Homo sapiens: one gene and its partners. The protein of the gene in region 1 purifies or fractionates together with the protein of each later gene. This does not show direct contact. Each region holds a gene or a part of one and is shown on either strand. Other genes may lie near its edges.

What was found.
Region 2: the proteins of AATF (region 1) and MPHOSPH10 purify together in Homo sapiens (affinity purification with mass spectrometry; 2 studies listed by BioGRID, with this or other methods). This does not show direct contact.
Region 3: the proteins of AATF (region 1) and RPF2 purify together in Homo sapiens (affinity purification with mass spectrometry; 2 studies listed by BioGRID, with this or other methods). This does not show direct contact.
Region 4: the proteins of AATF (region 1) and PAWR purify together in Homo sapiens (affinity purification with western blotting; one study listed by BioGRID). This does not show direct contact.
Region 5: the proteins of AATF (region 1) and KRI1 fractionate together in Homo sapiens (co-fractionation; one large-scale study listed by BioGRID). This does not show direct contact.
Region 6: the proteins of AATF (region 1) and MYO1B purify together in Homo sapiens (affinity purification with mass spectrometry, with the first as the bait; one large-scale study listed by BioGRID). This does not show direct contact.
Region 7: the proteins of AATF (region 1) and LARP1 purify together in Homo sapiens (affinity purification with mass spectrometry, with the first as the bait; one large-scale study listed by BioGRID). This does not show direct contact.

The regions. Positions count from the first base shown.
Region 1 is NC_000017.11:36,951,954-36,955,453, reverse strand, and holds part of AATF (protein AATF), read right to left. Parts: intron 2,569-3,500; coding exon 2,158-2,568; intron 1,685-2,157; coding exon 1,547-1,684; intron 1-1,546. UniProt on the Homo sapiens protein: Part of the small subunit (SSU) processome, first precursor of the small eukaryotic ribosomal subunit.
Region 2 is NC_000002.12:71,144,134-71,147,633, forward strand, and holds part of MPHOSPH10 (U3 small nucleolar ribonucleoprotein protein MPP10), read left to right. Parts: intron 1-294; coding exon 295-405; intron 406-3,500. UniProt on the Homo sapiens protein: Component of the 60-80S U3 small nucleolar ribonucleoprotein (U3 snoRNP). Required for the early cleavages during pre-18S ribosomal RNA processing. Part of the small subunit (SSU) processome, first precursor of the small eukaryotic ribosomal subunit.
Region 3 is NC_000006.12:110,988,538-110,992,037, forward strand, and holds part of RPF2 (ribosome production factor 2 homolog), read left to right. Parts: intron 1-490; coding exon 491-528; intron 529-3,209; coding exon 3,210-3,249; intron 3,250-3,500. UniProt on the Homo sapiens protein: Involved in ribosomal large subunit assembly. May regulate the localization of the 5S RNP/5S ribonucleoprotein particle to the nucleolus.
Region 4 is NC_000012.12:79,680,965-79,684,464, reverse strand, and holds part of PAWR (PRKC apoptosis WT1 regulator protein), read left to right. Parts: intron 1-3,500. UniProt on the Homo sapiens protein: Pro-apoptotic protein capable of selectively inducing apoptosis in cancer cells, sensitizing the cells to diverse apoptotic stimuli and causing regression of tumors in animal models.
Region 5 is NC_000019.10:10,559,511-10,563,010, reverse strand, and holds part of KRI1 (protein KRI1 homolog), read left to right. Parts: intron 1-173; coding exon 174-282; intron 283-1,165; coding exon 1,166-1,220; intron 1,221-1,294; coding exon 1,295-1,344; intron 1,345-1,745; coding exon 1,746-1,842; intron 1,843-1,930; coding exon 1,931-2,008; intron 2,009-2,562; coding exon 2,563-2,699; intron 2,700-3,074; coding exon 3,075-3,201; intron 3,202-3,302; coding exon 3,303-3,398; intron 3,399-3,481; coding exon 3,482-3,500.
Region 6 is NC_000002.12:191,381,404-191,384,903, forward strand, and holds part of MYO1B (unconventional myosin-Ib), read left to right. Parts: intron 1-58; coding exon 59-163; intron 164-1,876; coding exon 1,877-1,939; intron 1,940-3,500. UniProt on the Homo sapiens protein: Motor protein that may participate in process critical to neuronal development and function such as cell migration, neurite outgrowth and vesicular transport.
Region 7 is NC_000005.10:154,758,377-154,761,876, forward strand, and holds part of LARP1 (la-related protein 1), read left to right. Parts: intron 1-3,500. UniProt on the Homo sapiens protein: RNA-binding protein that regulates the translation of specific target mRNA species downstream of the mTORC1 complex, in function of growth signals and nutrient availability.

The DNA of each region.
Region 1 (3,500 bases):
GGGGCGGGGATATAAATGGCCCACCTCACCCACACAGGCCACGTAAGGCTCCTGGGAAGGACTGCCCAGACTTCCCACAGGGGAAGAAGCAGACTTTAAGTGTGGCGGGACACAAAACCCAAAAACTGGACTCTAGGAAGCCATTCCTAATTACATCAGGTATTCACCTACAAGAAACGTTCACTGAACTCCCTACCTGGGAAATCCTACACATTGATCTTGAATGTCTTAAGGCGGTTCTACCTACAGGCAGATGCCAAATTAGATATCCTCCTCAGGTCCCTTCCAACTCTAACTCCATGATACTAAAAAAATAAGTTTTAAAGAGCAAATGAAAACATGAAGTCTCAGCATGCAAGTAAGACATATTGATCTCAGCTGAGCGCAGAGGCTCATGCCTGTAATCCCAACACTTTGGGAGGCCAAGGCCTCCCAAATATATATATAGAGAGATAGATACATAATCTATACATATATATCTATATCTATGGATATAGATATCTCTTTCATGAGGACTCTGAATATCTAGATATAGATATATACAGATCCCAAACACAGCACACTCACCCTAAATCTCCCTCTGCCCCAGTCCTTCAGTGCCACTGGGCACACAGGCAAGCAGCACACAGGAGGCAGTGTGGTGCAGAGGGAAGATTCCTACATCATAAGGTAGAAAAGTTGGAGCCTCATCTCCGCCATACACAAATAAGCTCTGCAACTTTGGGCAAGTCATTCTGGGTCTTAATTCTCTCATGTGTAAAATGAAGACATTGGGAACCAAATAGTCTCTCAATTCCTTTTCCTCTTCTAGAATTCTTTATAGCTCAGTAATTCTCCTCTAAAATGTGTTTCTCCCTCGGCATATCATCTTTCCTCACTCTATGTCACTCAAAGAAAGATATAAATAAGATCATCTTAGCACATTGTTCTAAAAACCTCTCAAACATAGGAAGCATCTTTTAAACACATGATACAACCAAGTTTAATGAGCTGAATTAGACATTCTTTTTCTCCCTTTCTACATCAGTGGGTTTTCAACCAGTGTCCCCTGAGCTTTAAAGAATTAACTCAGGGCCAGGCTCAGTAGGTCACATCTGTAATCCTAGCACTTTGGGAAGCAAAGGTGGGAGGATTGCTTGAGGCCAGGAGTTTGAGACCAGCCTGGACAACACAGTGAGACCCTGTCTCTACAAAATATCCCTCTCTACAGGCAGGGTGGTGCACGCTTGTGGTCCCTGCTACTCGGAAGGCTAAGGTGGGAGGATCACTGAGGTGGGAGGATTGCTTGAGCCCAGGAGGACGAGGCTGCAGTAACCTGTGATCGCGCCACTGTACTTGAGACTCAGCAACAGAGCGAGACTCTGTCTCAAAAAAAAAAAAAAAAAAAAGCAACTTGGAAAGCCAAGGGGGATGGGGAGGGGAGAGCAAGGGCAGATGAGAAGAAAGCACAATAAACATGGCTCAAGCTCCCAGTCCACTTCAATCAAAGCTGTCTTCATTTGACAAAGTGGTTCTAAGTATTCCAACAGGACATAAGTATTCTTACTATTTTTCAGGGCACTGGAAAATTCTGGGCCACCTTTGTCCTTGAACAATGGGAAAACATCTGGTTGAGGAAGCTGGTTGGTGGTCAACAGAGCTTTTTGTAGTTTGATCCTTCCTTCCAAGAGCTGGTCCCACAGTGCTGAAAAGAAGAAAAGAGAATCCCATTCCTCAATAATAAAATATTCTGGGGGTGAGGTGGCAGGGGTGGGGAAGAACAGGAAACCACACCAGTCTCTAAGCACCACAGCTTTAGCAGTTTAATGCCATGGAAACAAATATTCTCTATTAGAGAAAATAAATTCAGTATCCATGAAGCAAGTATTTGCTACAGCAGAGTGGGAATGCTAAAACCCAAGGAGAGGAGAAAACACTCTTCTCTTCAATCTTCCCCAGTTGCAGGAAGTACTAGAGCAGAACCAGCTAAGCAGATCAGTGCAGAAATGGCTGGCTAAGCATACAGGAATAGGGCTTTAGGCTTCTGGGTAAGTGGGGCATGTCACAAACTAATTGAAAGGACACAGGAGATAGAGAATAGCCAAAAACAAACAAATGAAAAGTAGACCAAATGCAGATACTTTGAAAAACAGGCAATCAGCAAAACCATGTACAAACCTATCTGGTTCTTCACGGCTCTTCCTTTCTCCACTTCCTCAGAAACTTTGACACTAGAGAAGGTCATCACCACACCATCATCCTCACTGTTTCTATCTCCAGCCCTGTCTTCCTCACTCTCGCCTTGGGAGTCTTCCGCGTCATCCCCTTCTTCCATGCCACTCTCTTCGTCTTCCTCCTCCTCACTGCTCCCAAGGTCATCCATTCCCTTGGTAAATTTCTCAAAGTCACTGATACTCTGGACACTGAAGCCCGGTGTTTTTGCAGAGTGGCTTCTGCTCTTCTTGCTCTCCCTGTGATCACCACACTCCTGTTCCTCAGCAGCACCCAGGTCGTCCTCATCATATTCCTCCAGACCCAGTCCCTCTGAATCTTCATCTCCAGACCCTTCCTCATCAGATATTTCCTCATCTACAAAGAAGAGAGGGAAGAAAGAGAAAAATGGGTATTACCTGGAGAAAATACCAAGCCATAGACTTCATTTCAACTTAAGCACTGTGGCATCAGGGGGAAAATCTCTTACTGCACTCAATTCAACAATATATTTATTACACATCTACAATCTCCAAAATGCTAAGGGAGAAGCAAAGATGAATAGAACACGGGTCCTACCCTAACAAAAGGAGCTAGTGGGAAAGACAGACTCACAACATTACAACTCAAGGAAGCATCAGAAGTGCTTTGACAAAATTTCAATAACCCAGAAGAGTGAGAAATTTTAACTGTGGGGCAAGTGAATTTAAGCTAATCTCTAAGGAAGAGCTAGCATTTGCTCTGGCCCTTGAAGAACAGTAAGATTTCAACTGGTGTTAGAGAATTACCAGTTTTCCCAAACCTGATCTGAAAAAATGTACAATCTATCACATCCGTCTGCCCTATTTACTAAATACTTATTAAGCACTCATTATGAGCCAGGGGCTAAGGAAAGGCAAATAGAATTTAATACTTGCTGGGAGGAGTTCATGGTCTGGTGGGAGTGGTAGATATGCATGCCAATAATTATATTACAAGGTCATTAGTACACAGTGTATGGAGATGGAACCACCTAACTCTCCTGGAAAGGTGGGGGATGGTATCATGTGGAGAAGGAGACATTATAATTTTACTTATGAAGCATAAGGCAACAGCTCATAGATAATGAAGGGAAAACGCACTGGAGTGCAGGATGCACAAGGAAGTGATGGGAGATGAGACTAATCAGGAAAGGTCTCGTCTTTCATGAGGACTCTGAACTTGATCCTATAGTAGACAGAGTGCTAGTTAAGGCTCTTTGTTTGACTTATGCTTAGAGTATCATCTGATATGTAGAGGTTTTTACAGTTTATCCAATCTGTTCCATGGTA
Region 2 (3,500 bases), on another chromosome or scaffold:
AGCCATCTTAGGAATAGCTTAGTTTTTGACAGAAGTAAATACCAAGGTAATTAAATTTTTAAGTTCTGAGTATTAGAGGTAATGGTTACTGTAGCTCCTAAAATGCACATCACATCTCTGGTAGGTGCTGGAACCCTCATGGTACTGCTGCTTTTAATTTTGCTTTTGGAATGTTTCTTTGTAGCTGAAGCTTTAGTGATGAGAAGTTAGAAATACTCTCATTGACCTTTAGTGTTTTGTCCTGTGATATATATCAAGTCGCTTAGTTTGACATTGTTGAACTTATTTCCTAAGCAAAAAACAGCAGAAGAAGAAAATCCAGAACATGTAGAAATTCAGAAGATGATGGATTCCCTCTTCTTAAAATTGGATGCCCTCTCAAACTTCCACTTTATCCCTAAACCGGTAAGTGTGTTAACAGTTCAGTGTGTAGCTAGAGCAGGGTGACCTTCATAGCTTTGATCCTTTGTGAGACTAGCTCTTTATTTTGTTTCAGGATACAAACTTGTAGTTTGCTGTAAATTCCAGGCAGGGTCTCCATGAGGAAAGCTCACTTCTGGTCCCATGACAGTTCTGGCTCTACCCAGATCTTCAGTGAGCCCCTGCCAGCTGGGGCTGGGCATGGTCAGGCATCATGCTAGTACTGCCTCTTACTGTTTTAACTTACCTCACACTTTAAAAGATCCTCAGCCGTAGCCACAGGGACTCCTCCTTTCCCTACCCTCTCAGTCTTCTGTTGCATTTTCATTGTATAATGGGTTTGGAGATGTATGGATATCTATACCAGCATTTATGGAGTATCTGCTATGTGTCATATTAGGTTCTTTACATACACTAACACTTAATGCACACAACACTGAGGCAGGTACTATAGTTTCCATTTCACAGGGGAGAAAACCAAGGTTTAGGAGGTGGGAGAGTGAGAACTAACTCTGGGCCCAGCTGTCTCCGCATGATGTTCCTTCACCAGGCCCAGCCCTCTCAAATGCTCCTCCCCTGTCTGTCTGTCACCCAGACTTGGCTCTACCTGTCTATTCCTTGGAGCCTCATCTCCTGCTTACCAGCTTCTGTGAACCCATAAAACATGCTTGTACCATCCTTTGGTACTTGTTCACCTGTTGCCCTTTGGTGCCTGTGTTGTTGTCTGAAATGGAATGTCATGAATTAAAGACTAGTCTAGAAGTCAGAACCTGAGCTGAGTTCTGCTCCTAACTAGCTTTATGATGCAGGCAATCGCTTTACGTTTCATTTGTACCGAAGAGCTAATCTCCAAGATCCTTTATTATTAGTTGATGGCTAGGTGATTCCCATGCAAATATTTTATCTTCTCAGACAGTAAGCTTTTTTAACCTGGTTGTTTTTTTTTGTTTGTTTGGTTTTTTTTTTGGTATATATGTATGCTTTTAATCCAGTTGTAATTACATGCAAGTAAGTTCTTGATGGCAGGAACCATCTTTAGATTCCCAAAGTCCCTGCTATGGGCTGTGTAAAATAAACAGGTGAAGAGATGAGTGGAATTTCTCAACTCCTCTTGTCCAGCAGGTCTTACTGAGATGAAGGACGTGGGCCTTTCTGGGCCTTACCTGTGTGATCTGGCTCTTCCCACCCCTTTGGTCTCCCTTGGCTTGCTACCCCCACCCCCACTGATCTTCTGATTCCTTGAGCAGGCCAAGTCCCTTGCGCTTTCTCACTGTGCTCTTCCCCTGGCCCAGTAGGCTGCACTTCCTTTTTGGCATGGCTGGCTCCTTATTGCCCAGGCTAGACGCCTTTCCCTCCTTGCAGATGTTCCTTGGCTCCTTACCTAGGGTAGACTCCCCTTCCCACCTTGCTGCATGTCTCACCACTTGGCTCCTTTTCCTCATAGCTGCATTGCACATTTGCAGTCATTCGCTAGTTGTTCATTGCTCTCTACTTGTCTTCAGGCAGCACGAAATGCATCTACTGTTCCACTCTGTTCCTCGCACTAGCTAGGATCTAACACACGGAAGCCTTTAGACATTCCTTGGAATACTGGGAAGTGAAGGAGAAGTGAATGTATATGTGTCTATGTGCCCAAATGAAAAGCCTTTCTTTTTTCCCTTAAGAAATGTAGAATTGCTAGTGTAGGTTCCCCTTGATATTACTTTTTTCATGTTCAGGTTGGTATTTCACACCATCTCTGTAGACTCCATTTACTAATCACAGCCATTATTTTTTGTGGCTTTTTTTTTTTTTTTTTTTGAGACAGAATCTCACTGTGTTGCCCAGGCTGGAGTGCAGTGGCATGATCTTGGCTCACTGCAACCTCTGCCTCCCAAGTTTAAGCGATTCTCCTGCCTCGGCCTCCCGAGTAGCTGGGACTACAGGCATGCACCACCACGGCTGGCTAATTTTTTTGTATTTTTAGTAGAGACGGGGTTTCACCATGTTAGCCAGGCTGGTCTCAAACTCCTGACCTCAAATGATCTGCCCACCTTGGCCTCCCAAAGTGCTGGGATTACAGGCGTGAGTTACCGTGCCCAGCATTTTGTGGCTTTTTGGACTGTCTTCTTTTTCTCCATATTTCTCTTTAAACACTAGAATGGAACACAGTGTTTTTAATAACAGTTGAACAGTGGTCCAGTGGAAGAAATGATTTCTTTCACACTCTCATTTTTCTCTCACTTAGAATCCAGGATCCTATTGTGTTTATGGCTTGTTTTTGTTCTTTGTGAAGTTTCCTTGAGCAAATAACTCCATGGACAGGATGGTGATAAGGAAGAAAGAATGCTAATGTAACTGCAATATATAGTCACCATTTTAGTTGCAGGATCAGTATGAAACCTGTTTTAATTACTGGATTTCTTGGGTAGTTCTTTCAAAAAAAGACAAAAATCTGAAGCAGATGGTCCTTCAATTAACATTGCATTCTTTCCCCCTTTTTGTAATTGATAGCTTTGATTTATTTTGATACTGTTTGAGTTTTTCAGTATTATTTCATATTTGTTTATAGAGATGTTTTCAGTAGTTGAAAGATGAGGAAATTTATCAGTAGTCTATTTTTGACTCTTGTTCCCGTAAGCATCTTTCCTTGCATCTTTTTCCATATACTTCTTAGAGCTAGCTTTTTTTTCTGTAAGCAAAGTCAAGATAATATTAATAGAGATCAGTAAATCTTACCAAACAGCATTAATGGTTGTTTGAGAATGTCCACATGCATGGTAGATAGGAATAGTTGAGGAAGAGATGGAAGAACTGATGTTTGAAGATGGCAGAAATGTTATGTAAAAATGTAGAAAACGCCGGGTGTGGTGGCTCATGCCTGTAATCCCAGCACTTTGGGAGGCCGAGGCGGGCAGATCACGAGGTCAGGAGATCCAGATCATCCTGGCTAACACGGTGAAACCCCATCTCTACTAAAAATACAAAAAATTAGCCAGGTGTGATGGCAGGCGCCTGTAGTCCCAGCTACTCGGGAGGCTGAGGCAGGAGAATGGCATGAACCCTTAAGAGGGAGCTTGCAGTGAGCCGAGATAGCGCCA
Region 3 (3,500 bases), on another chromosome or scaffold:
TGATCCTCCCGCCTTAGCCTCCCAAGTAGCTGGGACTGCAGGCATGCACCACTATGCCTGGCTAATTTTTGCAGTTTTTTGTAGAGACAGGGTTTTGCCATGTTGCCCAGGCTGGTCTCGAACTCCTGGGCTTGAGTGATCTGCCTTGTCCTCCCAAAGTGTTGGGATTACAGGCGTGAGCCACTGCACCTGGAATTGTTTCCCTAGAGAGAGACTGGACTAAGTCGAGTTTAAAGAAATGAAGGAAATTGTTTAAGTTGGATAGACTATTGACAGGGCATAGAAACTTTTAAATAGGAAAGTCTAGTCCAAGAATATTAAGCTTACATTTCAAGTTACTGTAAGTGATGAAAAGGGAGCCAGGCAGAAGCCCTCAGAATAAGATTGAGGCCCCAGAGCAATCTTGGAGAGTGACTGTTATGATGCTTTATTTTTATTTCTGCTTTTCAGAATGTGTTTTGTTTTGAAAGCTATAAATTTTGTTTTACAGTATGCACTGAAAAAACCATACGGTGTACTATATAAAAAGTAAGTCATGATTTCTTTTACTGTATTTTAAATGATTTTGTTTCATTATAAAAGTAACCACTTTATGGAAGATTTGGAAAACAAAAACTTTTTAAAAAGATATTAAAATTCCTTACAGTTATTAATATTTTAATTTCTTTCTTTTGGTCTGTTTTTTTCATTTGTATTGAATGTCCTTGCATAGTTGTAACCATAGCATATATATTTTATTTTGAAATACAGATTTACAGAAAAGTGCAAAAATAATGCAGAATTCCCATATACCCTTCACCTGGCTTCCCCTAATGTTACATCTTGCATAACCGTAATGCAATGATCAAAACTAATAAATTAACACCGATTCACTCATGTTAATCAAATGACAGACATATTTGATTAGCACCAGTTTTTCTTTTTTCCTTCTTTTGAGACGGAGTCCTGTTGTCGCCCGGCTGGAGTGCAGTGGCATGATCTCTGCTCACTACAACCTCTAACTCTGGGTTCAAGCAATTCTTCTGCCTTGGCCTCCCATGTAGCTAGGATTATAGGCACGTGCCACCACGCCTGGCTAATTTTTGTGTGGTTTTTTTTTTTTTTTTTGAGACGGAGTCTAGCTTTGTTGCCAGGCTGGAGTGCAGTGGCATGATCTCGCCTCGCTGCAACCTCTGACTCCCTGGTTCAAGTGATTCTCCTGCCTCAGCCTCCTGAGTTGGGATTACAGGCATGCACCTCCATGCCCAGCTCATTTTTGTATTTTTAATAGAGACAGGGTTTCACCATGTTGGCCAGGCTGGTCTTAAACTTCTGACTTTAGGTGATCTGCGCGCCTTGGCCTCCCGAAGTGATGGGATTACAGGCGTGAGCCACCCCGCCCGGCCCAGTTTCTTTTTTCTTTCTTTTCTTTTTTTTTTAAGACGGAGTTTCACTCTTGTTGCCCAGGCTGGAGTGCAGTGGCATGATCTAAGGTCACTGCAACACCTGCCTCCTGGGTTCAAGCAATTCTCTTGCCTCAACCTCCCGAGTAACTGGGATTACGGGCATGCGCCACCACGCCCGGCTAATTTTGTATTTTTAGTAGAGACGGGATTTCTCCATGTTGGTCAGGCTGGTCTCGAACTCCCGACCTCAGGTGACCTGCCCACCTCGGCCTCCCAAAGTGCTGGGATTACAGGCGTGAGCCACCGTGCCCGGCCCTAGTTTTCCTTTTAATACTCTTTTTCTCTTCAGGATCCCATGTTGCATTTAGTTTTCATGCCTCCTTAGTCTTCTCCAATTTGTGACAGTTCCTTAGTCTTTCATTGTCTTTGATGACCTTGACATTTTTGACAAGTACTTGTCAGTTATTTTGTAAATTATCCCTCAATTTGGGTTTAAATTTTCTCATGAATTGATTGAGGTTATGCATGTTTGTCAAGAACACTACAAAAATGTTGTGCTTTCCTCATATATTCTTCTGGATTATAATCCAGTGTTCTTAATTTTGTTGCTTAAATTGTTCTGTTTGGCAATTGGGAACCCCCCCCCCCCCCACCTTTTCTTTTGTTTGTTTTTTTAGTATGAGACGGAGTCTCACTCTTTCACCCAGCCTGGAGTGCAGTGGTGCGACCTCAGCTCACCACAACCTCTGGCTCCTGGGTTCAAGCGATTCTCCTGCCTCAGCCTCCTGAGTAGCTGGGATTACAGGTGCCCAGCTAATTTTTGTATTTTTAGTAGAGACAGGGTTTCACCATGTTGGCCAGGCTGGTCTCAGACTCCTGACCTCAGGTGATCCACCAGCTTCAGCCTCTCAAAGTGCTGGGATTACAGGCGTGAGCCACTGCTCCCAGCTGGGAACTCTTTTACGTTGGTTCCTATGACCTTTCAACATGCCTCCTGTTTTTGAGCACTTCCTTACTTTCTAACATCACAAAATTATCTGGGTTCATCTTGTCTTTTTCCTTACCACAGCCCTGGAATAAGCTACAGTCATCCCTCAGTATCTGTGGGCGATGGGTTCCAGAAACCTCCCCTTATTAAAATCTGGGTATGCTCGTCTCTTACATAAAATGGCCTAGTATTTGCATATAACCCACACACTTCCTCCTGTATCCTTTTTTTAAAAAATGCTTCCCATAAAAGTAAGTTGCATATACTTTAAATCATCTCTCGATTACTTATAATATCTAATATAATGTAAATGCTATGTAAATAGTTATAATGCTGTATTTTCTGGTTTATCCTGCTTTTTATTGTTCCTTTTTCTTTTTATTTCTTAACTTTTTTTTTAGAGACGGGGTCTCACTGTTACCCAGGCTGGAGTGCAGTGGCACGATCATATTTCACTGTTGTAAGCCACTGTGCTCGGCGCCCCCTGCTTTTTTTTTTTTTTTTAACACACTTTCTTTGTCTATTGAATACTGTCAATCCGTGGTTGGTCAAATCAATCCATGGATGCAGAAGGATGCAGAATCCATATGTACAGAGGACTACTTATTTTCCACGAGCCTATAAACTCCATGAAAGCAAGCATCTTGTTTAATGTAGTAGTATAGTATCACTAGCTCCTAGAATGGTAGCCTGGCATATAACAGGCACTGAATAAATATTTGAATGAATGAATATCCTTTCAATTGTTTTATCATCTGAATATAAAATTACCTTAATATATTAATTGTATATACTTATTTAGATTATTAAAATTGTCACTTTTTTGATATTCTTAGGAAAAATATTACAAGACCTTTTGAGGATCAGACATCACTGGTAAGTATAATAATCTTTATGATTTAAGAAAGCATATAAGTAGTAATTATTCAGACTAATTCATTTGTACTCCAAATTTGTGATTTTTTTAAACATTAGAAGTCATCCTGTGTGAGGGAATTTTGTGTAAAATGGAGAGGAAATACTTTAAAAAATATCTATAGAGCTTTCATTTCACTATGGCTGGGAAATGTGTTTTTCATTGCCTGCAAATATATTGATAAAATTTTTAAAACTTGGCCGGGCGCGGT
Region 4 (3,500 bases), on another chromosome or scaffold:
TAATTTTTGTATTTTTAGTAGAGATGGTGTTTCGCCATGTTGGCCAGGCTGCTCTCAAACTTCCAGCCTCAAGTGATCTACCCGCCTCAGCCTCCCAAAGTGCTTGGATTACAGGTGGGAGCTACCGTACCAAGCCTATCTATGCTATTTATTATTTCTGCATTTTTTTTTTAGCACCTATGATGTGTGCCAGAAAATAATTATGCCATTTAATAGCAAGGTTGATATAATGTTTTATAAGTATAAAATTATTGGCAAATATTAGGGTTTGACATTTTCTCTGTGCTTTTTTTCCTTTTTTAAAAATTGAGATATAATTCACATACAATAAAATTTACCCTTTTAAAGTGTACAGTTCAGTGGTTTTTTAGTATTCACACGGTGTGCTCTTAAGTGCTTTTATATTTTCATCTTTATTTTTCATTATGTTCTTAGAACCTCTGGTCCCTAAATTTTAGCTTTCCTTTCAGTAAAGTGATATGGTATTCAAATTATGAGAAGCCATTAACTTAAAATAATTTAATATCAGCCTTTCCCACTTTACAGAGAAAATGAAATTATGGTAGGATCTCCTCAATTTTAAGTTTCTTAAAACTTGGGCACCTACTACCATTTGTTTGCAGTGGAGTTTAGTATAATAGGTATTTATTAGGTTTGTGCAAAAGTAATCACAGTTTTTGCCATTGAAAGTAATGGCACCAGCCTAATAGTTGGATTACTTTTGCAAAAACCTAACAATTTAACTGAGTGTAATACTTTCACCTTAATAAAACTTTTACATATCTTTCATGGAGATCTGCAAAGCTCTGTCATCTAAACATTTGGGAACATTGATTCAGAGTTAAAAAAAAAAAAAAAAGGAGTTTCCACTGCTTACCACTTTAGTTACAGTACTAGAATCAGTGTCCTAAAAGATGTTTCTGGGGGGACCATCTCTACCAGTATCACTTTTGCCATTTATTTAAAATCAGATTTCTGGAATCCACCCCAGTCTGGGTTAGGGATGTTATCTGAGAGTCTGCATTTTAACTTGAGTGATTTTGGTACACACTAAAGTTTGGGAAGAACTAACTTAAATACCCTGTACTAGTTTACTGATCCGTCAAATGAAATGAATGCTGGTTATCTAACAGGATTGTTACATGAATTAAATAAAATGATGTTTGTGAAAATGTTATAAAAATGCCCAAATCAGAAATTGTAGTTACTGTATAGGTTAATTTCCTATGAGGTTGTTAAACATTTTCATTTTTTTCTTCCAATTTAAAACTGTGCATATTTTAACAGACAGGTTGAGCTACTTGGAAATTCAAAGTACTTTAAACATTTATGTAATGTCACATACTTAGTGCAAAATGCTCTGTCTGCTTTGCCTCTTTTCCAGAATTTAGACAAGTCTAGACTACAGAAACACCTCAAATAGTTAATGCGTAATTAGAACTTTACTTTCACTCATTTTTAATTTTTACATATCTTTAAGTGAAAGCATATACTTGTGTTTATAAATGTATTTGATAATTAGCAACTCAAACTTTTAAAGCATTGTGTTTGCCATCTTATCAAACTACTATCAAGTGCAAACATTTTTCCCATTGATTACAAATCTTACATGTTAGACCTATAGGCATCCTTGACTGGCAATTGATTTTGAACATATTTGGTTAACTGCTGAGTCAACTTTCTGTTTAGATCTTAGGCAAATGTGTTATAGCCATATACCTACATGTATAGAATTGAGCCTCAGCCACCTGTTACATTCTCCTTAGGCTATGTAAAAATACACAGGGCACCATGGCTGAACGACATTGTAGGAATATTTAAATTCTAAAAGCAGCAAAATCACACACTTCAAAGGTAAAAAGAGCTCCAGCAAGTTCAAATCTTAGCATGTCAGTTGACTAGTAAAATGTTTATTCTGTGATAGTTTTTGGAGATTTTGTCCAGCAAAATTTTGTGGGTCACAGTGTATTTTTCAATGATAGTCTCATTTATTTTAAGTAGTTGAAGAAATAGGGCAGTTGTATTCTGAAAATTAATATTTTGTTAGGTTTTGCTGAAGTGAACAGATAGGAGAGAATTTATATTGTGGATTACAATTCTGTGGCAGCTGAAACTTTGTTTTCAGGCTCTTCATAATAAATTCTGTGGGGCCAGGTGCCATAGCTCACACCTCTAATGCTACCACTTTGAGAAGCTAAGGTGGGAGAATCAATTGAGCCCAGGAGGTCGAGCCTGCAGTGAGCCGTGACTGCTCAACTGCACTACAGCCTGGGTGACAAAGTGAGACCCTGGCTCAGAAAAACTCAAACAAAACAAAACTCTAGGGGGACTAAGAGAATAGGATAAATAAACATAATAATATACAGTTTGAAATACAGAACTGAAACAGATGAAATTAACTTAAAAAGACATCTTTCAGACTAAGCTTATCTATGGTCATGTAAGCAAACTACTTAATATTTTAGAATTTGCAGGTTACATAAAGTATCAATTGATTTTCTATTATTTTGGAGTTTTTTCCAGAATATTTTTAGTAGTATTTAAAAAGAATGTAAATCTCAGAACAGAGTTAACATTCAGAAGATGGTGCTTGAGGAATAGGAATAAAAAGTACGATTGTATTAGCTGAAATAATCAAAGAAGTTACTTTTAGGTTTCAAATTCTTGAAAGACTTCTCCATATCCTATAATGTAAGCAAAAGTTGATGCAAATCAAATTTATGTAATCCTAATTTTTTTCTGCTAGTAGAAGTAATGTGTTAAAAAAAAGGCAGTGTGTTCACTGTAGTTCTCTCATGGAAATAAATCCAAGGAAAGGTAGAAAAACCTGTTATCTTATACATATTAATATTTGTGTTTCTATTCTTATTTTTTTGAATCTACTTGAGAAATGGAACCACACTATTGATTTGTGTGTATACTTAACCACTCATCATGAGTATTTTTATGATGTTATTCTATAACTTCAAAAATAGGGGTGGATGTGTATGTATCTTTTGTTGTATGTTTTTTAGAGACAGGGATCTTGCTTGTTCCCCAGGCTGCAGTACTATGGTGTGATGACTCAGCCTCAAACTCCTGGGCTCAAGTGATCCTCTTGCCTCAGCCTACCAAGCAGCTGAGAGTACAGGCATGAGCCACCATGTCCAGTTGGATGCATGTGTTTTGTGCTGTTTGATATTAAAATACTTAACCATTACTTCATTGGGAAAGGACCTTACTGCTTATCTGCCTTATTATGTGGCTTTTTGATTAGCCCATAAATAGTCTTAGATAAATAGCCCTTTCCTTTCCTTTCCTCCCCTCCCCTCCCCTCCCCACCCCTCCCCTCCCCTCCCTTCTTCTCCTTTTTTCTGAGACAGGATCTCTGTCACCCAGGCTCAGTGCAGTGGCACGATCATGGCTCACTGCAGACTCAACCTCCTGAGTTCAAGAGATCCTCCCACGTGAGCCTCCTGAGTAGCTGGGACTGCAGGCTTGCACCACCACATTGGGCTAAT
Region 5 (3,500 bases), on another chromosome or scaffold:
GAATGACCCCAACCCCACCAGATGGTGACAAGCACAATACTCTTGGACAGCTGGGAATTGGTGGATTTGGGATTTGAATCCTCTGTCTAACCCTGGCCCTGCCCTGTGGGATTCTCTGCCACGGCAAAGAAGGGGGTTGTGGGTGATGGCAGGTGTCTTTGGTGGGTTAACAGCATCGTCATCAGACAGTGAGGAGGACCCAGAAGCCTTGGAGAAGCAGAAGAAAGTGCGGCCCATGTACCTGAAGGACTACGAGAGGAAGGTTATCTTGGAGAAGGCAGGGTATGGAGAAGGCCTACATCCCCACCCCCTGGTTCCCAGCCCTGTCAGGTCTATGGGGGTCTTAGGGGCAGGAGAGGGAAAAAAGCTGGCAGCCTGGGCCGGGCATGGTGGCTCATGCCCATAATCCCAGCACTTTGGTAGGCTGAGGCAATAGGATCGCTTGAGGACAGAAGTTTGAGACCAGGCTGGGCAACATACCCCGCCTCTACAAAAAAATTAAAAATTAGCTGGGCATGATGATGTGTACCTGTAGTCCCAGCTACTCAGGAGGCTGAGGCAGGAGGATTGAGCCAGGAGATGGAGGCTGCAGTGAGCTATGATCAGGCCACTGCACTCCAGCCTGGGCAACAGAATAAGACCCTGTCTCAAAAAGAAAAAAGGCCGGGCATGGTGGCTCATGCCTGTAATACCAGCACCTTGGGAGGCTGAGGCGGGCAGATCACCTGAGGTCAAGAGTTTGAGACCACCCTGGCCAACATGGTGAAACCCCGTCTCTACTAAAAATACAAAAATTAGCCAGATGTGGTGGTGGGCGCCTGTAGTCCCAGCTACGTGGGGAGGCTGAGGCAGGAGAATCGCTTGAATCTGGGAGGTGGAGGTTGCAGTTTTCCGAGATCATGCCACTGCCCTCCAGCCTGAGGGATAGAGCGAGACCCTGGCTCCAAAAAAGAAATGCTGTCACCCATGATTGGAAAAGAAAAAAAAAAAAAAAACGCTGGAAACTCACCAGAATCGCAGATAGCCCTGAGAGCAGGAGTCTCAGTGATTCCATAGCCCTCCGATGACCCCCGCCAGCTGTTGCTTGGAATAGCTGCTCCGCATGGGCATGGGGACAGGCGGGCCCTGGAAGATATATTCTGAAGACCCCACTTTTCCTTTACAGCAAATATGTTGATGAGGAGAACTCAGACGGGGAGACTTCCAATCACAGACTCCAGGTGGGTGGGGTGAAGGCTGGGTCGGGGGGCTGAGGGGCCTGGGGCTGGCCTGAGACCTATGGCCCTCTCTGCAGGAGACATCGTCGCAAAGTTATGTGGAGGAACAGAAACAGCTCAAGGAAAGGTGAGGCTGGGTGGGCGGGAATGGCCCAATGGAGGAAAGTTGAGGCTCGGGGGTTGGATAGGCACGGGTTCAAATTGAGCTCTGTCACTTTCTATGTGCTTCAGTTTCCTCATCAGTTAAACGGGGTTAATAACATCACAGCACTGCTCTGAGCTTGTTGAGAGGAGAGCTCAGGGCTTAGTAAATGGGGTTAATCTTGGGGCAGCCAGCCAGGTGAGGTGGCTCATGCCTGTAATCTCAGGGCTTTGGTGGGCAGAGGAGGGAGGATCACTTGAGCCCAGGAGTTCAAGATCAGCCTGGGCAACATAGTGAGACCCCAGCTCTACAAAATAAAATAAATACTGGGGCAGCAGACAGGGGCCAGCCTGCCTGTCCTGAGGCTTGTTTTCTCTCGTGGGCAGCTTCCGGGCATTTGTGGAGGACAGTGAGGACGAGGACGGCGCTGGGGAGGGCGGCTCCAGTTTGCTGCAGAAACGTGCCAAAACCAGGCAGGAGAAGGTGGGTACTGGGGCCTGACTGGACTGCTGGGGGACAGGGTGGCGGGTGGCTGGGCATCTGCGGATGCTCAGTGCTAGCTTTCCCCCAGGCCCAGGAGGAGGCCGACTACATCGAGTGGCTGAAGGGACAGAAAGAGATTCGGAACCCAGATTCCCTGAAGGAACTGGTGAGTTCTCACGCATGGTCGCTGATGGAGTAGACCGCGTGTTCCGCGTCCATCCAACCTATTTACAGAAAGTAACCCTCTGAAGATGGGATATGTACATCTCTGGGCCTCAGCTCCTACATCTCTTTAAATGGGGATAGGCTGGGTGCCGTGGTTCACACCTGTAATCCCAGTGCTTTGGGTGGTCAAGGCAGGAGGATTGCTTGAGGCCAGGAGTTTGAGACTGGCCTGGGCAACATAGCAAAATGGCTCTACAAAAAAATGAAAAAATTAGCCAGGCATGGTGGCATGCACCTGTAGTCTCAAATACTTGGGAGGCTAAGGTGGGAGGATCTTGTGAGCCCGGGAGGTTGGGTCTGCAGTGAGCTATGATCACACGACTGTACTGTCACCTGGATGGCAGAGTAAGACCCTGTCTCGAAATAAAAATAAGAAACCAAAATGGGGCTAATGTCACCTACTCCAGAGGCTGGCTGTGAGGTCCATGTGGTGAGCATGCCTGCCCTCCTTCCCTGTCCTCCATTGACCAGAGTCCTGTCTCCTGTCACCCCCAGACGCATCTCAAGGAATACTGGAACGACCCTGAGTTGGATGAAGGGGAGCGGTTCCTGCGGGATTACATCCTCAACAAACGCTATGAGGAGGAGGAAGAGGAGGAGGAAGATGAAGAGGAAATGGAGGAAGAGGAGGGGTGAGCCACTGCATCTCCCCAGGACCTAGATTTTGGGTGCGCTTCATGAAGTATTCCCAGGCGGCACTGGCCAGGAGGCAGAGGGCACCATGTGTGTATTTTTTTCACAGATGGTGGCAGAGTTAGTCTTCTGTAAGGCAGAGCCACAGAGTATAGGCTCTGGAGCCAGGTGGCACTGCCTCAAATCCTGGTTCGGCTTCAAGACTTTCATGCCTCAGTTTCCCCATCTGTAAAATGAGGACAATAGCAGCGTGCACCTTGTAGGGTTCTTGTGAGGATTAAATGAGTTCATACGCTTCGTACCCAGGCGTGCAGGAAAGGGGGGCTCGACCTCACTTGGCTGGCCCCCTGGCATCACCACATCTTGCCCCTCAGGGTCCACGGTCCCCCAGTCCAGCTGGCTGTGGACGACTCCTCAGACGAAGGGGAGCTGTTTCTGAAGAAACAGGAGGACTTTGAACAGAAGTACAATTTCCGTTTCGAGGAGCCGGACTCAGCATCGGTGTGTGGCTGGGGCTGGGGAGGACTCAGCCCCCAGGGTTCAGGCCCAGGGAACCCCACATCATCTCTGCGGCCCTTGTGGGCTTTTCTGATTGCGCCTAGGTCAAGACCTACCCACGCAGCATCGCGTCCTCCGTGCGCCGTAAGGATGAGCGCAGAAAGGAGAAGAGGGAAGAGACTCGGGAGCGAAAGAAGAGGGTGAGTGTGGGGGGTGAGCTGGGGAGGACCCCCCAGCCCTGGAGGAAAGCCCATGCCCTCCCCCTCTCTGCCTGGGCCTGCAGGAGAAAGCAAAGAAGCAGG
Region 6 (3,500 bases), on another chromosome or scaffold:
TGTTTTGAGAGAGCTAGTGGCATGGTTTATAAAGCTGTTTTTCATTTTCTCCATACAGGACAACAGCTTTGAGCAGTTCATTATTAATTATTGTAACGAAAAGCTGCAACAAATCTTCATTGAACTTACTCTTAAAGAAGAGCAGGAGGAGTATATACGGGAGGTAATGTTGAAATGCTATTTTTAAAAGTGTTGGTCCTTTTTTACTCGTAATATAAATTCTAATTCAGAAGATAGCCTAAACAAGAAGCCATATTCAAAAGGCTACATACTGTATGATTCCATCTGTCATTCTAGAAGAGGCAAAGCTATAGAGACTGATTACCTATAAGAAGCTATAGAGTCAGGGATTGCCAGGAGATAGGAGTTGTGAGAGGGTTGTGGCTGCAAAGAGAATTTTGGGGACTGATAATGGTGGTGGTTGCTTGACATTATACATTTGCCAAAACTTAGAGAACTGTATACCAAAAAAGTCAGCATCACTGTAAGTAGATTTGAAAATATTTTGAGACTTTGTTCAATATCAAAAAGTATTGAGTATTCAAATTTATAGTAAAAATAGGTAACAGTTACTGAGTCCTTACTACATAGCAGGTATTATATTAAGTGCTATGTATAGATTATCTCATTTAATATAATCTTAAAATAACCAGAAGTAGTGTTTGCAGAGTCTTTTCATCATTAATTTAAAAATATATATTTGCTTTTCACCCTTTTATTTTTTAAAATAGCCAGTCTTTTTTCAAGTGTAAAATTAGTTATTTCAAAAAATAAAAAGGAATTGTTATGTTTATATTTTTATTTCCTTTTTTGTTTATTTGCCTTAATATTTTAGTAATGATATTACCTGTTTTCCTTTATTTTCTTAGTATCATTTTAAGCCATTAAGGACACTGAATTCTCTTTTATCTTTCTTTCCATATAGATTTTTCTAATGTGATTGTTATCCCCAGTGGCTTAGTAAAACAACCCATTTACTCAAAAGCTAAATCATAAATATTTCATCTTTATTTTAGAGTACTCATTATGCTTCAGAAATGTTTTATACTTGTCTGGCACCTTTTAGTAACATAAATATTCTAAAAGCACGATTCATTCTTTTCCTGTCTTCTCATCATGAAGAGAATGCCCAAACTTTGATGGGTAACTTAAAACAGTTTATACAGATTGTTTAAAACACTTCTAAGAATATATAGGAAGATTGCTAGCTTGCTGTAATGAATAGAAGACAAATAAATGTTTACATTTATGGACAGAATGTTAAGTAGACACAGAAAGATTACATTTGGCTTTATGGATTTGGCTTTGTAGCCAGTGTTAGAACCAGTGGATAGATTTTCATGTCTTTCCTTATGTTGAAAATACTTTGTGGTAGCGCTGGCCTGTTTTTTTTAACACTTGAAAGAGTTAACTTCCCTACAACACAAGATTGACTCTAAAATTAATTTTTTTCCTTATGATTACAGATTCAGAACAGAAGAATCTAGGCTTTAAATTCTTGGGATCAAGTTCTAACTTATTTCCTTATAAACATTGTAAACATACACAACGTAATATTGACCCAAGGGCCTGTTGAGTAAATATTTGGCCCAGGGCCAGTGAAGTGCATGGGAAATTGCTGCAGATGGGAGAGTGGAATGGAAGGCAGTCTCAGAACAGGTCAAGGGTGTTTGCTTCAATCAGATTATGTCAGTGGTAGGCAGCTGCATTGAGAAAGTTTTGGGAACTGCCTGTGACATTTGCAGTACCCATTCTATAAAGAAAATAAATTCAGAGAGGAAGGGAAATATGATAAGATGGTCAAAGTCTGTTTTATGGATGGTAGTGTCGTGGCTTCATCTTGTGTCATTGGATTTTGTTCTGTTTTGTCTTTTAGGATATAGAATGGACTCACATTGACTACTTCAATAATGCTATCATTTGTGACCTAATAGAAAATGTGAGTACTTAGGTACAGTTTTCTAAAGAATGTTTTAGTCCTATAATTCACCCTTATAAATGTTCTCAGTGCCTCAATGTTAAGCATTAGTATTTTCACTGTTTTTTATATATATATATATATATATATATACACACACACATATATATGTGTATATATATATATATACACGTACACACACACACACACACACACACACACACACATATATATATATGTTAAGGAACTGCAGAGTTCTAGAGATTTTATTGTAGCCCTAAGAGATCATACACAGTTCTTGAACACATACATAGACAGCTGGATGTTTTGATACTTAGCCAGGATCCCCAGTGGCCATATCACAACACCCTTTTATGACCTTCAGACACCAGGCCTTAAAGGTACCAGCCTTTCTTGTATGGTTGGAGCCCAGGTCTATTCCATGACTCCTGGGCATGTGAGTACTGATCAGAGTAGGCTCTGAGCAGCCATCCAGTTTTTTGCCAAATCAAAATATCCATTTCATTCCCAAAACTCTAATGACCTCTTAACATACTATTCACCGGGTATTATATTAAGTTTAAGTGACATAAAGGGACAACCTCTGGAGCTGAATTAAGTGGGACCCCAGAAGTGGCTTAAGTGCAGCTGTAGCATTGATTCAGATCATACATGCAGAGGGCATTGCATGTGTGACTGCAGGTGGCCAGGGACCTGGAATTTTTCGGATGACCCAAGTATGTGCATATGCAAAAAGGCTTAAAGTGTGAAAAATTATTGGATAATTTCGAGTAAGCTTTCTGAGTCCAAGATTTTTGTTTTTAGATCATATTCCGTAGTTTATTGTAAATGAATTAAATGTAGGAAGACTGATTTTGTGTGTGGAAAACAGGAAACTAATTTATGCTTAGGATTACTAATACCTGACTTTGAATAAGTAATTTGAAACAGTGTATAAGCCTTATTATCCTGCAGTCTTTTTAGCAAGACCAGTTTAGTGAGATGAGTGCTGTGTTTCAGGAATACAGTCACATGCTCTGAATGAATATTAAATCATTTTCTACTCATCTTTTACAAAGCTTTTTGGGAAATATGTAATTAGCCAGTATTTTTTTTCCTCAGTATTCAAGATATTCCTAAAAGTTGTTTCTCTGATTAAATTAAACAATATTCTAAGGCATCACTATTTTTCAATAAGAAATAAACTGTGTTTCAAAAAATCTGAACAATATTGAATGGGAACACTAATATTCCACATAAGCAATTCAGATCTCTGATTTTGGCTCTGAAAAGTGAATTTCCTGAAAATTTTCCTGGTACATTTTGTGAAGGAGGTAATTTGCTATGGGAATCTTAATTTTCAGAATTTCTGATTAGTATGTTTTCTTTGATAAATATAACCTTGCATTTAATTATTCTCTTTTAAGAAGAGGAGAAAAAGAACAGTGGTAATACACTTAATTTAACTAGATTATCTCAGCCAAAAATCCCCTTGCTATATGATTGAAGAAGCTCATGTTCACATAGGAACCTGGGTATATAAAGGAAATGTTTCCTTCCAGCATCATTAAACAATAATGTT
Region 7 (3,500 bases), on another chromosome or scaffold:
AGAGAGTGTCTACTTGTTGGTTTAGAACCTTTGGAATAGGTTTTGACAGCCTAACTCAAGTTAATCCAGTAGCTTCTCTCTCTAAGCCTGTTGTTAGGGTTTGTGTGCATTTTGAGAGAGAATTCTATGATTGGGTTGTCAGTCTGGTAAGGCTAGATGATGACCCTTTCTCTGGAGCCTACGTGGATCTCTGAAGTGCTTTTCCAGCCCTGGTTTTATTTACAGCTTCGACAAATTTAAACGTGACACTAGTGGAGTGGCTGTGTGGTCTTGGGAATTTTTGTGTTCTGTGATGCACATGTTTTTGGGAGTCTACAGAAATGAGTACCTCATAAGCAAACTAAAAGCTTTCCAAAGCTTGCTGTAAATGCCTATTTTTAGCCTTACTTTTGGCTCAAATGTTGGTGTTTTAGTTCTTTAAGGGACACATGCAGTAACTAGTAATAAAATATGTTTCGTGATATCTCTACTTTCTTGTGGGGTTCTGTATTCTGGTTTAAGCGTCCAAGTCTTACATTTGTAGTTTTAAGTCTTGGGATTTGCATTTTGGTTTTTTAGATCTCCCTCCCTCCCCAGAGTATTTTTAAATGTTTAAAATTTTTGTCTTATCCTAGCCATACCCCTTTTAAGTATAAGATCCAAGACGTCTAAGTTAAGAGATGATACATAGCGAATATTCTGGGGTCAAACTGAGTGGGTTCAAATGCCACTGTACCACTTGTTAGCTGTGCTTCCTTGGGCAAGTTATTTAACCATTCTATGCCTCACCTTCTTAATTTGTGTAATAGGTATTTATGATTCACCTGCCTCATGGGGGTATTACCAGCATTCATTGTTATGATAAGTGTATTTAGCCCAGTGCCTGGCAGGTAGACATTGTTACTTACTCTGGGTCTTGGTGGGACTTTTCCCTGGGTCTCTGGTTTTCTCTACCTGTAATATGATGGGGTTGGTGAATGCAGATCTTTCCTTTTCTTGTGTTATATAAGTACTCCGTGAAATGTATGGGATCTGTCTCCTTAAAACTTGACTTTTGCTTATCCACAGACATGAAGGGCATGGATGGATAATTTAAAGGTTGCTGACTCTTAAGAATTAGCTATTTTTTGCTTTGGAATGTGGTGAGATGAATTTTAAAAAAATAAGTTTTAACTTTTTAGTTTGCCTTTTGTAAAGATTTTCTTTGGGGGGAGTTGCACGTGTGCTCTCAGGGATATGAGGAAAAGCCAGCCTAACTGGACTGAAAGTTTGCTGTGGCTGGTGCACATGTAGTGCCGTGAGACTTGAGAGTACAGATAGTCCCCAACTTATGATGGTTCAATTTATGATTTTTTGACTTTATGTTGTTGGGAAAGTGATACACATTTATTGGAAACTGTACTTCAGGTACCCATACAACCATGGTTTTTCACTTTCAGTACAGTATTCAATAAATTAATTACATGAGACATTAAACGCTTAAAATAGGCTTTATGTTAGATGCTATGGCCATCCGTAGGCTAATATAAGTGTTCTGAGTGCATTTAAGATAGGCTGGGCTAAGTTTGTTTGTTTGTTTGTTTGTTTGTTTGTTTGTTTTTTTGGAGACAGTCTGGCTCTGTCGCCCAGATTGGAGTGCAGTGGTGTGATCTCGGCCCACTGCAACCTCCACCTCCCGGGTTCAAGCGATTCTCCTGCCTCAGCCTTGAGAGTAGCTGGGATTACAGGCATGTGCCACCATGCCCGGCTAATTTTGTATTTTTAGTAGAACGGGGTTTCTCCATGTTGGTCAGGCTGGTCTCAAACTCCCGACCTCAGGTGATCCACCTGCCTTGGCCTCCCAAAGTTTTGGGTTGGGATTACAGGCGTGAGCCACCGCGCCCGGCCCTAGGAGCTACTTCTGATCCTGCTCATGACCAGCAATGTGGACACCGGCAAACGCTTTGCTTTCTCTGTGCCTGTTTCTTCGTCTGTAAAATCAGGGTATTAGACTAGGTCTAAATGTCTTAAAATTTTTCTAGTATCAAAAATTTTTTTCTAAAACTCCCTCCCCACAAAAGAAAGAAACCAAAGTAGAGCTTTATATATGTGTAGCTTTGTATTTGCGTTGTGATTAGGAATCCAAGCTCTCTGGAGGCTGGAGAAACTCTTCTGGCTTCAGGAGCCTAAGTCGATGGCTTGGGGGTGTATAATGGAGCAGCCAGACATTATGTGCCTTACAGTGTCTGAAAGCACACAGCACTGCCTGAAAATTTCCTCCACCAAATAAAAACTGAACCTAAATCTAACAGAACCATAGATCCAACTGCCAGTTTATAGGGAAATGGGGCTACAGGAACAGACTAATTAGCCATGAGGTAGGCAGTTATTCAGTTTCTAAATGTGAGAAATTCTACAAGACACACTATTTCCAATAAATAAATGGCATTTTTTAAAGGGAAGAACTGTTACAGATGAAGAAAGTTGAGACATCAGTCGTGCATTGTTGTGGATCTTGTTTGGATCTTGATTCTTGACCAAATGTCCAAAGACATTTTGATGACAACTGAGGAAATTGACTAAGTTAAGAAATTATCTTATTTTGTCAGGGGTGATAATGGTATTATGATTGTTTTTAACTGTGTAACTGGATATATTGTGCACCCCCACCTAAGAACTGTTAGGTTAGTCTATTACATAAGACTTAAGGCTTTTTCCTATTGTGCACTTGATCTTAGCCAAAAGGCCAAGAAGCAATATAGTGTGAATCACTTTCTCTTCTTCTAAGGAAAGGTCACAATTAGGACACCCTTTGAAGGGGAGAGTGGGAGGCAGCTTTCATCGGGAGCCTTCAGCTGGCCTGGCCCCTTTCCTTTTGCACAGGTAGTTTGAGTTTCATACTAACCCGGAAGTGAGTGCCTGCCAGGTAGGGGAAGGTTTTTAGGAAGTGGTTTTTGGCCCTTTGGGAGGTAGAGGGTAGTCACAAGCTTTCTTGAACTCTGAACCTCCTGAGGGTCGGGGTCTTTCTGCTGACCCACCCACTGTCTATAGTGGGACCTGAACTGGAGTAAGCAATCTTAATAGCTGTTACTGAGCACCCATTCTCTTTTCTGGGAGGTGGGCAGGGTGGGAGGAGGAGGAGGAGCAGCCGGCCTGAAACTACAAAACCTCTTTAAGATGGAGAGCTTGGCAGATGGGAGTTCCCCTGTTTGCAAAACCCAAGACAGCTCAAAGGGAGTAATTAGGGTGTTGGGGCCACTGGAGGTTCAGCAGGTGCCTCAGTCCAGACTCAAAAACCTCCCTGGCTGGTCCAGAGTGATCTAAGGGAGTGGCCAGGAGAGAGGATGGCCTTACCTTGCCTGGGATTCAAGAAAGGAAGTAAGTTTTGGTACCTCGCTGGTGAAAACATGGGAAACAGCACATCAATGTGAAGGGAGAAGGTGATGGGATTTAAATTAGAACATGGGCAGGGTACTTCTCTCTGCTCTCACTTTGTGACCTTAGATTGTTTGTCTAACCTGTTTTCCTTATTCACAGAATGG